Linked DNA regions of Homo sapiens. The protein of the gene in region 2 purifies or fractionates together with the protein of the main gene of each other region. This does not show direct contact. Each region holds a gene or a part of one and is shown on either strand. Other genes may lie near its edges.

The links. The genes of interacting proteins can lie anywhere in the genome.
Region 1: the proteins of ZSCAN12 (region 2) and SERPINA12 purify together in Homo sapiens (affinity purification with mass spectrometry; 2 studies listed by BioGRID and IntAct, with this or other methods). This does not show direct contact.

What each region holds. Positions count from the first base shown.
Region 1 is NC_000014.9:94,499,470-94,506,469, forward strand, and holds part of SERPINA12 (serpin A12 precursor), read right to left. Parts: intron 4,754-7,000; exon of another isoform or gene 4,564-4,753; intron 1-4,563. UniProt on the Homo sapiens protein: Adipokine that modulates insulin action by specifically inhibiting its target protease KLK7 in white adipose tissues.
Region 2 is NC_000006.12:28,383,727-28,390,327, forward strand, and holds the end of ZSCAN12 (zinc finger and SCAN domain-containing protein 12), read right to left. Parts: 3' UTR 2,511-6,601; coding exon of another isoform or gene 2,507-2,510; 3' UTR 1,012-2,506; downstream 1-1,011. UniProt on the Homo sapiens protein: May be involved in transcriptional regulation.

The DNA of each region.
Region 1 (7,000 bases), on a different chromosome or scaffold from region 2:
CTCTGGTTGGACATACTACTGTCAGTGATGGTCACACCCATTTATATGTAAAACGAAGGCAGATTTCTTTGCTTGGTCATCTGTTATATCATTTAGTCTGCTTTCTTCCTGTAATTTATATCTTACATGTCTGTAATCTGTGGGTAATAGTCAGCCTGTCCACAGTAAAGGTTTTTCATGGTTGTCTTAGATTGGGTTCCCTAGAAGCAGAACCTGAGATGGGGATTTAGGTGCATGTTATGTATTGAGGCAGTTGTCTTCCCTGTAGGGAAGTGAGGGAAGTGGGATGGAAAAGGGAAGGAGCCAAGGTGACATCTAGCCTTGGCCTGGTCCACAGTGGGAGGGCTCTCCAGGCTGGCCTTTTGGATAGAATCGGTCAGTTGGTGGCTGTGATCTGTCCTCTGGATGCAGGTCATGGTGCATAACTGGGTCAGTTAGGTCTTATCAGCCAAGGACAATTTTCTGGAGAGGGGAGGGCAGTTGTGAGCTGTCAGCAGGCAACCCTCACAGCAGCACCAGCAAAAGGGAACTGGGTCAGCCACCAACGGGGTCTGCACAGCTAAACTCCCATGCCTGGCTCTTTCTGGTTGGCTGAATAAGCAGATGAATGAACACCAGGCAGGGCCTGTACCTAGGAGTGTCCCCAGTTCCCAGGTTCTTCATGTCCAAATCCTTCTACGCCAAGCACTGTGGATAGAGCCTTGATCACAACAAAGGTCTTCAAGGAGTTTGTAGTATAGTATTGGAAAATTCTAGTGAATACTGCTCATTGCTCCTTCAGCATCCATTCTCCCAGCTTCCCAATAGATCCTCTTCTTCTTTCTTCTCCTCTTCCCCTCCTCGCCTTCTTCTCCTCTTATCCTCTTCTCCTCATCTTCTCTTTCTTTTTCTTCTTTTCAATAATATACTCTTCTCTCAGGCAGCCCATGTGCCTCAGGGACACAAGCCCCTCCCAGCTCCAAGGGAGGGCCTGATTGGTGCAGGGGCATCTCAACTCTCCTGCTACTGGTTGGTTCAGGAGCCAGACCTAATCCAATCAGTGCAGGCGGGAATTTCTGCCCTGATCCTTGTTTAGGGAGGGGCATGTGGCTTAAGGGGTGCAATGAGGGAGGATTTCAAGACTGTTTGTTGGAATGTTGGGGTGCTGGCCTGTCTCTTTCCTGGGATGTCCTGGGCAGGAAGGCACGGCAGGCAGGGACTAACAGCAACTTTGCCCCGTGAGGGAAGTGACTCTAAGACAAAGCCATAGCACAAAGAGGATGCATCCAAGGGCTCTTAAGAGAAACCGGGGCTGGGTCCATGGAAAAAGCTGAACCCAGAGCCCACCTTGCCTCTGGACCCCCAGTGACGTTGAGTTACATGGTCACTTCCTTGAAGCCAAAAACATCCTCACAAATACGGGCAGATACATATTTTTTAAAACGCCAGGACTACTAAGTAGGCAGGAGTTCTGTGCTCTGCTCTCATGCCTTCGTAGCTGTGTGACATTCCAGAAAGCACTTCCCTCTCTGAACCTGGGTGCTCTCTAAGCACCTTCTACCCCCAAAAACCACTTCTTGGTAAAACTTAATAACAGCTGGTGATGAACAAGGGCTCTATGGGCTGCTGAAAACAGATTGTAGAAGAGAAATTAGTAAAATTCCCAAGAATGCTTCAGATAAACAAAAGAAAATAGGAAGGAGTCCATTTCAGGGTTTAGGGGGCTGCACTGTTTACAAAGGCTGCCTGGATTAAAAATAGAAGCTTCTGCTATTCAGAGTGGGCGCAAGTTCCCAGTGCCTAGGAGTGGAGAAGTTAAGACATGTCCCTTGAGCTGAGAAAACATTCTCAGCAGCGGTGAAACCAGCAGCCTGGCAGGAGCCTTGGAGGAGGCCGGGCAGGGCAGGGCTGGAGCAGGGAAGGAACCCACAGAAAGCACCATCCTGGGAACACTCTGTGGCACGCACAGCTTTACAGTGATGTTCAGTCACTGATCCCTAAACATTGTCAAGTTTCAGAAACAAGAACGGATTATGGAATTCCAGGTCTGGATAGCGGTCCTCCCCAACTTGTGTGTTTGTTAGGTGTTTTGATGCAAGTCTCTTCACCCTTCAGGCTTTCAGTATCTTCATCTATTAAATGAGGGGGAGGTGGTGATAATTTGGTTTCTTCCCCCATGAGATACTGCTGATCAGGTGGCACTGCCACCACCTCCCCGCCCCCCCACCCCCGCCCCAAGGGACACAGCCCACACCCTGGCCTGGTGGGGTCTCAGCACCCTCCCACCTCAGCATGCCTGTGTCACAGCAGTCTCCACCGGGCCTCCTGCCCTGGCTCCCTGAGTGCGAACATCTGGCCTTTCTCCCCCAAACAGCCAACACCAGCCCCATTCCGGGCCTTTCCATCTGTCATCACGGGCTTTAAACTGACCCAAATTTGTCAGTTGGGTTAGATGCCTGAGTAGGCTAATTTTTTAATTCCATCAATTAAAATAGCTGAGCAACTGGTTATTTCCCAATCAATTGATAGGTTGCTCTCCTGAGTTGAGCAATTGTTTGTTGGCTTTTAGTTTGGAATGTGTGTGTGTGTGTGTGTGTGTGTGTGTATCTGTGTGTGTTTGGCTGTGACTCAAAATAAATAAAGAGATAAAACTAAAACAAAACCAAGAAAAAAAAAAGAACAAGATAGAAACCGAACCCCATGGGGTACACATGGGACACATGAAGCTATAGTCAGTATTTCAATTCTCTGATCATCCTGCTCCCATGTTCCCTATTAATTTGGAAAAATAATTTCCTCCTCTTATGACTAGATAAAATAGTGCCTCACTGACCCGGAAGTCATTCATCCTAAAGACAGATCCAAACCAGATGGGAAGCGTCCGCACAGGTAGCATAGGCGGCTTAAGTCTACACGAGAAGGGGTTTCCCTGTGGGAGGGCACTGCTTCCACCTCCCACACCGTCCCGATCAGCCAACTGAAGCAACAGTGAGCTGTGACAGCAGACTCAACAATAATAATATTTCTAATTTTACAAAGCGCTTCCCCCGTTATCACCACAGTTTGAAGAAATGATACCTAAACAGGGATAACACACACAGGCTACAGAAGGTCTACTCAGTGCACAGTGGTTTGGAACCACAGTTTTCTTTAGAGAGAACTCCCCCTGCCCCCAGGCAGGTCACTCCTCTCCTGATAGTTGACCACCCTACCTCTCTTCCCTGGGATGAAACTGACTGGCTAGAAAGAGTTGATGTAATATCCTTCCTCAAGCCAATGAGACCAAAAAGTTTAGAATGCTTTGGACAAGTTCCCATGTCTTGAGAACCAACAGAGCGAGCTTCAGGCAACCAGTGTGTTGCCTCCTCATCGGGGAGATGCTTCCTACACTTGGCTGCATGCACCAGACACCCCTTCCTGCCCCAGAAACCCCTTCCTGCCCCAGGAACCCCAGGCCCTCTGAGATGCCACCTTTCCTCAGAACCTTTTCTGAGCGCCTCTTGGAATGTGCAGCACTTGGGTAAACCCGGTGCCCTTCTTTGGGCTGAGAAATCTGAGGAATCCTTGCTAAAGGTGTGCCTTGGCCTCCCAACAGAAGACCCTCACAAGAGCCCTGCACTTGAAGAGCCACTTCAGGCCTGCTCTGTGGCTCACCTGTTTTAAAGGACTGATATTGCTTTAAGAAGAAATCACTCTATATACATCAGAAATTAAATTATTATTTTTAAAAGCACATTTAGAACTAAGTGGTGGTAAGACATATCTTCTCTCCCCTGTTAGAAGTAAGAGAAGCCCCATAAACAAACTCTGATGACCACAGCAATATACTTTCTCCTCCTTTCTGGAAAACAAAGAGTGGAGAACATGTCCCCATTCCACTTGTTAATTTGCCCTGTAGATTTCTGCCTTCATTCCTTAAGAAATATGTTTGAGTCCTCACTCTGTGTCAGGCACTGGGGCACTAGAGCAATGCCCAGGAAATGGTCCATATTGATGCTGCAGACTGACTCTCAGCCCAACAAGCCCCACAGCCTTCTCCAAACCCTCAAGAACCTTCCAGCTGTTTGCCTGACCTGGTCCTCCTCCCCTTCCGTGACTGCATTCTAGGAGGAGGGGTATGTGGGTTGGAAAGGCTGAGAGATCATTGACTTCAGGACTATCTGTGCCATAAAGAGGGAAATGAGGCCCAGAGTGGACAAAGGAAGAGATTGTGGTTGCAGTGTGCATCAGTGGTGAAGGCAATTCTGCAGAAATGCATTGAACAGGCTGCTTCGCCTCACTTTCTCCATGAACCAGTGAGTTGATGGATCCAGCCTCTATCCTCAGAGAGAGATAAAGATTCACAAACAGCTCACACACAAGGATGACTGTGGCCAGCATCATGCAGCAGGGGTGGACCCAAATTGGAGGCACCACTTATGTCCCAAGACTTCTCCCATCCCCACATTCATGAAGCTTCTCTCTCTAGAAAAGCACTGGGCAGTAGACATCCATAACACTCTGCCAAAGATGTTCAACAAATTCTTCAAGAGGGGTTTACCTGGATTTTGGAGATCCTCTAGAATTTTCCTTTCATACACCCACCTGTGGACAGTGCTACATCCTCCCTCGATCTGAAGCAAGCTTCGTGTGGAATAGACAAGAAGCACCGGATCTTTTGGAAGGGAAGGTCTCATACTCACAGTACATTCAGAAGTCCACTGAGCCAGCCAAATGCATCTGCCTTTCTTGCTTTATTATTTATACTTCCATGGCCTCTTGGAAGAGTAAGGCCAATACAATGAGCTGGCGTGTATGGGCAGGTGATGGAGGCTTTGGAAGCAATGGCCACACCACCTCCCTGGGAGCTCTCCCTGTGGAGGCAGCGGCATGATATCGTACCGGCCACACCCACTGGGCTGTGGCTTCCCTAATGAAGTCCACTAGACACCTTTTGCAACGACTCTATTTCCCAGTTGCTCTCTGGGTATGGAAGCCAGAATAGTCTACAAGTAGATGAGCCTAGAGTCCTAATACTGAATATTCAACCCAAGTATCATCATTGCTGCCCATGGGAACAGGTTGATAACTGGGCTTCTTGGGGTCATTCCCATGTATCCCTCACCATTTTCTTTTGCTATTTTTTCATGTGTTCCAAATTAGCTTAGCTCACATGGAGTCCTTTGGGGAAAAAGTTCGAGGACAGACAAATAGACAACTAAATGCGTAGATTCCGTTAGGAAGAACAGGAATTAAAAATTCACCTCAAAGTTCATGATCATGGAAATTACAAATTGTTTTCCTATTGCACATTTGTTGTGCTGGAGTGGTGAGACTATGGTTGGGTTCTCTTGTGCTGGGGTGATGAGACTATGGCTGAACTCTGTTGTCTCTGCCTCCCCCTTACTTTTCTATATTTTCCAAATTGTCTTTAAAAAACAGATATTACTTTAGGATTAATTTTTCAAAGGCTTAAAATAAAATAAAATAAAATTCTTATCTTCAGTTTTACCACTTGGAGAGAGAAGCATTGAAGATGTCTGGGAACATTCCAAACCCACTGATGCTGGGATGGAAGAGCAATAAGCTCAACATGCCTATCTTCAATTCTGCTTAATCTAATGAGCTCCAGTGAGCAGAAAAAACATTCACATATTTCTTCCCCATTGAGTGGTGTTTCACAGTAGGTCGTATCTGATCGAAACACCTCGGAGGCCTCGGAAGAGCCATGGGTGTTGTTTTCCCTTCCTTTGGGTTGCTGCTTTTAGCAAAGACATGACTCTCATTCCCAGAGCTATTCAGAGCAGGTGACCCAGACAAACCTTCTTGGAAAGAGGAGACACTAGTTCATTCCCAGGCCTGGTTCAGCCACAGACTCTATGCACTCAGGGCCTAGATGAACAAGGACATGGGGATATGGGTTCCAGAGCTGCCCAGATCAGAAACCACCCCTGAAGATGCCCCTGAGCCACCACCTTCCCTCGCCCAGGCAGCAAGGCCTGCCTGCTGGGATGCATGGGTCAAAGACACCATGTGAACGGCGAGATGAGAGACTTCACACTGGCCGGCTCTGGTCACCAAGGGGTTGCAGAGGAGACAGAAGGACAGGCTGAGACCAAGGAGTACAGGTGGTCCTATTGTGACTGTAGAGGCTATAGTGGTGGAAGATCAGAGCCAGTGAGGTGGACACTGACCCAGAATCCAGGTCTGTACATCTGGTTTGGGAGGGAAAACCTGCCCTCTAATGACAGGGTGAGGCCTGTGTGAGTCTGAGGGCCATGCCTCCCTGCCTGCCCCAGACACTCTCTGCTCCAGGGTAAATTTCCACGGGAGACATGCAGGAAGAGGCCAGGGTAGGGATGCCCACTGAGCGACACGGGCAGCACTGGGGATGCCTGAGTTCAGACAGTGCCAGAGGCCAGTAGGCCATGGGCAGAGGGTAGCCACAGGTGGGCTGCCGGCCAGCCAGGCGCTACACCTGGGTTGGGAGTTGCCTGTCCTGCCTGGGGAAAAGAGCCCCGGAGGAGGTGCACGTCTGTGGAGAGCAGTGAAGGATATAGGCATGGGAGGGAGCAGCCCCCTTCACGTGCCCATTAAGGGACCTCAGCCTAGACTTGAGGCTGCCCCGACTGCCTGTAGTTAAGATTCAGGTCCCATGGATTTGTGCCTGGTGTTCATCAGGGGCTAGAAGGATGAAGGAGATTGTCCAGCCTGGGAAGATTATTGTTATAAGTTAATGGGCCTAAGGCACTGGTCGGAGGCTGAGGGGTGGCCTGAATATTTTTTACATTATTGCCATGTGTAGGGGTGAGAGGGGAGCTAGGAATTTCTGGTCCTCATCCTCACTCTTTGGATCTCCCAGATGGAAGAAACATGTTAGTGACCATGCCACACCCTAACTCCAAGAGCTCTGGTCTGATGGGAACACAGAACACAGAGATACAAGTCACACTAGGTAAGGGCCAAGGTAGAGGTAACTCTGGGAGGTGAGAACACACAAGAGGCACCTGATCCTAGCTGGGGTGCTCTGGACTGTGTCATA
Region 2 (6,601 bases):
TTGGGCGATAAGTGTCCCCTGCTGGCCACTGCTCATCAGTTCTCCAGCAGGAAAGTAAAAGTATACCTGGGTGGGAGCTTTTATCTCAGGGCTAGGAGGACTGTGCAGCAGTCTGGGAAACATGCAGCTTGGTTAAAGGTAAATTTTGACCTGGGTCACTGGCATCTAGAGACAATGCATTTGAGAGAGCCCACAACAACAATCAAAATAGCAGTTGTAAAGCACTAATGTGCCAAGCACTATTCTAACACTTCGTAAACTCATTTAATCTACATTGGGTTGGTACTATTATCCTTGTCATTTTACATAGGAGGAAACTGAGGGACGAGAGGTTAAATCCCTTGCCCAAAGTCACTTAGCTAGTAAACTGAGATTCGAACCATGGCAATCCGTCTCTAGAATCCAGGTTCTTAAACCCTATCTCAGGAATAAGTAGGGAATTTGGCCAGAGGAAGCTGCAGAGTCCCTAAACTGCCTCAATCTTTATCAGGGATGAAATGAGGAGACATCTACTCCTAAATTCGTTACTGAAGTAGGCAGAACTAAGGCACTAGATCAAAACACTAAGATATGCCCACTAAGCTTGAAGAGGAGTAATGATGATGTAATCATAAATCAAAAGTAACAAATGGCTTCCACTATGGAGCCCTTCTTGGGACTTCCAGGAGCAGGCCAACTGGGCTTAGGAAAATGACTGGCAGGAGCAAACAGACATATACCCTAGAGATTAACTTGAACTATGATAGGTGAAAGCTCTGGGAGCCTTGACTGATGGGTTTCTGACACCTAAATGGTGTTTTTAACGTGTATGAAGAGAATCAACTGTCTCTTCAAGAGATGAAATCAAGGGAAAACTGCTGGCTCTAAATGATGGTCTTACAATGTAAGCTAGGGGGCTAATCAACTGAAAAGTTTAAAACACTTATCATAGTTGGCTTTGTCAACATCAAATTATATACATGAGGTCATATATATGTAAAATACAAATTACAACACAAAAATATTCATACATACTTTTTACACATTTATATATATATGTAGAAATACTATACAAGTAAAAAATAATGTGTGAGGACTCCTTACCAAACGCACACAGAACGTTTGAGAGGGAGAGGATCCAAAGAAATTCCAATAAAATGAGCTGCTGTAGTGACTGTGGTATATAACTTTTCGGTTTAAAGGATAAAAGTTGGGAAGAGATTCAATTAAAGGCTATCGAATGATTATGTCTAGGTTGAACAACAAGCATTTGCTCAAATTCTGGCCTTGTGGAGTTAGGAGGGTCACCATTTGAACTGTAAAATTGGTAAGTCTTAAGCAAAGAAAAATATCATATATCACATATATGTGTGTGTGTGCATTTTTAAATCCAAGAAGTATCTTCTAATATAAAATCACTTTTGAAAACTGGCATTAAAGATAGATCCATAATGGGTTATCAACACTTGGGGACAAATCTTTAAATCTTTCTGTATTAAATTAGACAGCCAAATATTCCTTATTCTGTGAGAATAATGCAGAGTGATTTATCATTCTAAGAAGGGTGATCTTTTCATATAAAGAGCCCATTTTTAAAGTGGAATGTCTCCTGTGACACCCTCACTGTGCAGGCAACAAGAAGTAGAGCTGTTTATGCTGGCCAAACCTCATCCAAGATTTGGTATGCAGAGGGGGTGATAATATTATTACCTGAGGTGTTTGGACTCCAGGACTTTCTGAATCATTTTTCAGAATAATGACTGGAGATAAAAAGTTTTTACAGATAATTACTCAAGACACTGAATTACCACTGCAACACATGGTTTGTTCAACTGAAATAAAGAGAGGAAGTGTATCACAGAGGTTAAAAGTGTGAACTCTGGAACTGGGCTGCTTGGGTTCAAATCTTGGCCTGACCACATACTAACTTCGGGACCTTGAGCAGCTTTAGATTATCTATTTCAGTTTCCCCAGCTGAAAGTGAAATGTTGTAAGTAAAGCATTTAGTAATGTCTGGCCCTTAGTAAGCAGCTAATAAGTGTGCGGTATTGTCATTAATAAATCCTTTTCTCAATTCCAAAAGATGGCCAATAAGAACAGCTTTGTTTTGACTATAACAACTCTACAAATAATCTGTATATTAACAAAAGTGGCTACTTCTGTACTGAATACAGGAATGCAGACTTGTCTAAGTTCTTCTATCTTAGAGGTCTCTACAACCAACCTCATTATACAGTTGAGATGTCTCAATTTGGAGCCCTGCTCAATCCCACTGTCTTTCCTCATTAGCTTCATCTCGTACCTCAAACTCTGGCAACCTCTTAATACAATTTATTTTTGGAAGGAGGGCCCCATTCTTTTTTCCTCTGCAGTCACTTCCCACTGCACTCTCTGGAATCAGTTTGATTGTCAGGTTACGTTTTCATTCATAGCCCGTGTTGAAACTCACCTCACTTTTCATTACTTTAGAAACTTGGCTCTTCCCCAACCTCTCCATGCTTTTTGCCTTAAACACTTAATGTCTTGTTTACCTTGAATCAATTAGAAAAGACAAGCCAGTCAATCTTATTCTTATTCTTAATATTATTTGCAAGCTTTATGATTCATTCAAGTTTTACAACAGATACTTCTATCTGGCCATTGTTACTACAATTGATGACCGTTATTTCTACCTTGGACCTGCTTCGCTTTTATATTCTTCGTTTCCATCCCACCCCGTTATTGTTATTTCAAAATCCACATACATAAAATGCTTCAGAGGTTTCTGGTTTCCTAGGATCTTGTCACTGTCACACCACATCTATATGTTATCCACAAAATGTACTCCTGACTTCATCACAAAGCATTCTCTCTTCACTGCATTCCCTAATGTAGCACTCCTATTCCATATCTAACATGTCACATCCTCCATTTGCCCCTCAGGGCCTTCAATTTGCCTATATTGCCAATTTAGCTCCAATTAGTAGCCTTATTCTACTATATTTCCTCTTTATCCTGGAAAGCTAGTTTAATCCTCTTTGATGCCTACCTGGAAATTCCATGTCACTCCACCTTTTTTTGGTACTACAACTGTATTTAAGCATGAGAAATAACCAGAACAAAACCCCCACGTGTATTTTTATTTTTATTTTAATTTTTGTTGAGATGGAGTCTTGCTCTGTCACCAGGCGGGAGAGCAGTGGTGCCATCTCAGCTCACTGCAACCTCCACCTCCCGGATTCAAGCGATTCTCCTGCCTCAGCCTCTCGAGTAGCTGGGATTACAGGCATGTGCCACCACGCCTGGTTAATTTTTGTATTTTTAGTGGAGATGGGGTTTCACCACATTGTCAAGATGGTCTCAACCTCCTGACCTCGTGATCCGCCCACCTCGGCCTCCCAAAGTGCTGGGATTATAAGTGTGAGCCACTGCACCCAGCCTCCACATTTATTTTTAAACAAGTATGAACTGTACCCTCCTATAATAGGCATATTCCATTGTTCTGAGTCTTTGTTTATGGTCCCTTTATAATATTAGGTATATAAGAAAGATTAAGTAGTGTGCAGAAAGGCAAATGGAGGAATGTGCGCAATGACAGAACATATTAAGCAGAAAATGAACTGGAAAGACCCCAAGTAAAGGCACTCAGAGGAGTAGAAGGCAAGTTTAAAACAACGATTGCATTCCAGCGAGCAGTCAGATTAAAAGAGAGGCTCTGAAGTTACTATGAACAGTAATTTCAGTTTGGATAACAAGTCTATAAAATCAGATTAGATAAGGAGTATGCATAGCATGTTTGGTAAGGAGAACATTCTCACACAGGTTCTCATCACTAAGTAAAGTCCCCTCCACTGAGAAGAGTTTCTAACAGTGAAACAGCAAAAGAACTACCATAACTAACTCCATTTTTGTTTAAGGACCCTTTACCTATTCCTCCATGTAGGCTAATTTTAGAGCAGAGATAATATGCAAAAACAGCAATCATGTAGTTTTAAAAACTAACTCTGGGATTAAAGAAGTATGTATAACAATTATGTTTTGTTGAAGATTTGCAGGAGCATTGTGACCCAACCAATGACAAAGAAGTTCCCAACCTCCTTGGACTCTTGCTGGCGCCCAGATGTCTGTGGTCATAGGTCACCTCTTCATCCCAACTCTGTCCTCTTCCCTTTGCCCTTAACATAAAAAGAGCCGAGCCCAACATTTGTACTGACTTAAGATGGTACTTTAGGACAGTAGTCTACCATCGTCTCAGTTTGCTGGCTCTCCGAATAAATCTGCTTTTCCTCGCACCAATTTTCTTCTCTCCCGAGTTTTGGCTTTGGAGCCGCAAGCAGCTGAACCTTGGTTTGGTTACAAGTTTGCATTCTCATTATGTGAGAAATGGGAGGCAGGGTAAACTTAGGTAGAGCACAGGCCTCACATACTTAGAGCTACAGAGCTCCCAGACTCACTCTGGGTTCCTTGTTTCCTGGAGGAAAAAAACTAGGTTTCCAATCCCAGTTGCCTCAGTGCCTCATGTGTGCAACTCCAATGCTGGGGTTATGAAAAAAGCCTAACTAAGCAGTCCTCAACTTATGAGTAAGTTGTTTTTCAACTGTTCATTTGCCTTTCTCTCTTGTGAACTCAAGAAGGTTTTTCCACACAGAAAGTCATGTAAGTTCCAATCCCAGAAGCCAATTTGACACCTAATATACCTGAATTATAATACTTATACCATTATGACTTCTATGGGAATATGTGTTCATATTTACAACTTAGCTAGAAACATAATATTCCTATAGGACCAGAGACGCTTCTAGTTCCAACCCAGGGATGAAATTCTATACAGGGTTTATGGCTAGAGAGGCAAGAGACAGGGGCACTAAGAAAATGGGGCTGGGGAGTATATTACAGGAGTGAAGAGAAGATGGGACAAAGACACAGGGCTGTGTAGAAAGGTAATTAGGAGTGGGACTTACTAAGGAAGAATGCAGATTACCCTTCTTTTATTTTTCCCCTTCCCCTTTTGTCACTGTCTCACCACTTCAAACCCACTAACCAGCTAGAAGTGTGAAGAGAAGAGAGGACTGGAGTTGTGTTGGGGTGTAGTAGGAAGTTAGTCCCAGAAACTGTGGAGTTTGCTGTGGCAGGGTAGAAAAGGAAGGAAATAACAGGCCATCTCAGTAGAGATTAAGAATGATTTCTGTAAATAAAAAGACAGATCAGGAGCCATGTGTACTTCCATGTGGCTTATCTGTTGTCCACTAAAATAATCAAGACAGGTTCTCATCCAAAGCAGAATTTTTACTCAGCAAGGCAAGGTTAGAGTCAACCAGTTTTGGTTGATTCATTTTTCAGAAGCCCAAGGGATAGTATCTCTAATTTGGGGTCCTTTTATGTGCTCAAGAAGTAAACAAACCAACAAAATGTAAATCAGTTCTCAAGAGCCATTATTAGGGAATTCAGAACATAGTGCTAACATGAGATCTGAGAAATAAAAGAAGGTAAAGCATAAAACAGAGAAGAGCACCAGGCCCTCCCCTAAATAAACAAACAACACAAGGCCTTGCACTCAGAAGACCCTTGGAATGTAGGTCTGTCTCTCTTTCTTTGAATACTTAAATCTGAAGGGATGGAAAGACCACCTAAAAATCCTAGTTTTTTGGCATGATGGGGGTCTAATTCCTTGTTCACTCCAAAGAGCTGATGGCACATGTTCCCTGTAAGGATCTCCTTGTGCTAAAAGTCTGCAGTGGCCTTTAGTTTATAGGACTGTGTTCAGGCTTCCCCACTTCGCAGACAGCCATGAAGTCAGCTGTCATTCAACTCAACGCTTCTCAAATTTTAAAGTATATTAAGTAACTGTGGAGCTATAAAAATGAAGATTCTCAACTCCCATCCTAGGCCTAATGAAGCAGAATGTGAGTGGGATTCAGGGATGTTAAACAAGCTCCAAACATGATTTTGATGTTCATCAAAGTTGGAGGATCACTAGAGTAATGGCCAGGACTAGAAGTCAAAAGACCTGCACTTAGGTTACTGGTCTTTTTCTTTGTGTGGGATTATAGCTATGTTGCCATCTCCATAGGCAAGAGTATTCTCATTTTTAAAATGGAGAATGCTTTTGATTTACCAAGGTATTTTAGGAATTGAGAAAAGTGCTCTGTAAATGTCCAAGTGCTATAAAGTATTAGATGAAATTATTCACACTCTGGCCCTCTTATGTGTCTGTCCCCAAGCTGTTTCCAACTTAATGCTATTGATTGCCCAATTTGCACGAACCTTTTACTTCAGGTTGGCTAGTCTTTTCCCTGATGCTTCCAAACCACATGCACTCTTATGATGGCTTACATTTGTTTTACCCGCTTTCTCCCTTTTGACTGCTAAGTCTGCCCGTCAAATCCTTATTTTAAATAAAATCTTTCTTGACCACTCCAGGCAAAAGTAACCTGTCCTTTAGAATTTACAGCACTTATAGTCTGTTACAAAGTACCACTTTCATTCGACACCATCTGGTGCATCAATTCTACTCTCCTGTAGTCTTATATGACTAAATATGTGGATCTTATCTATCCCAAACTAGGCTACAAACTCTCTGAGAAAAGAGTTTGGGGTTATCTTCTTGTTCTCCACAGCACGTAGTACAATGGGCAGCACACAG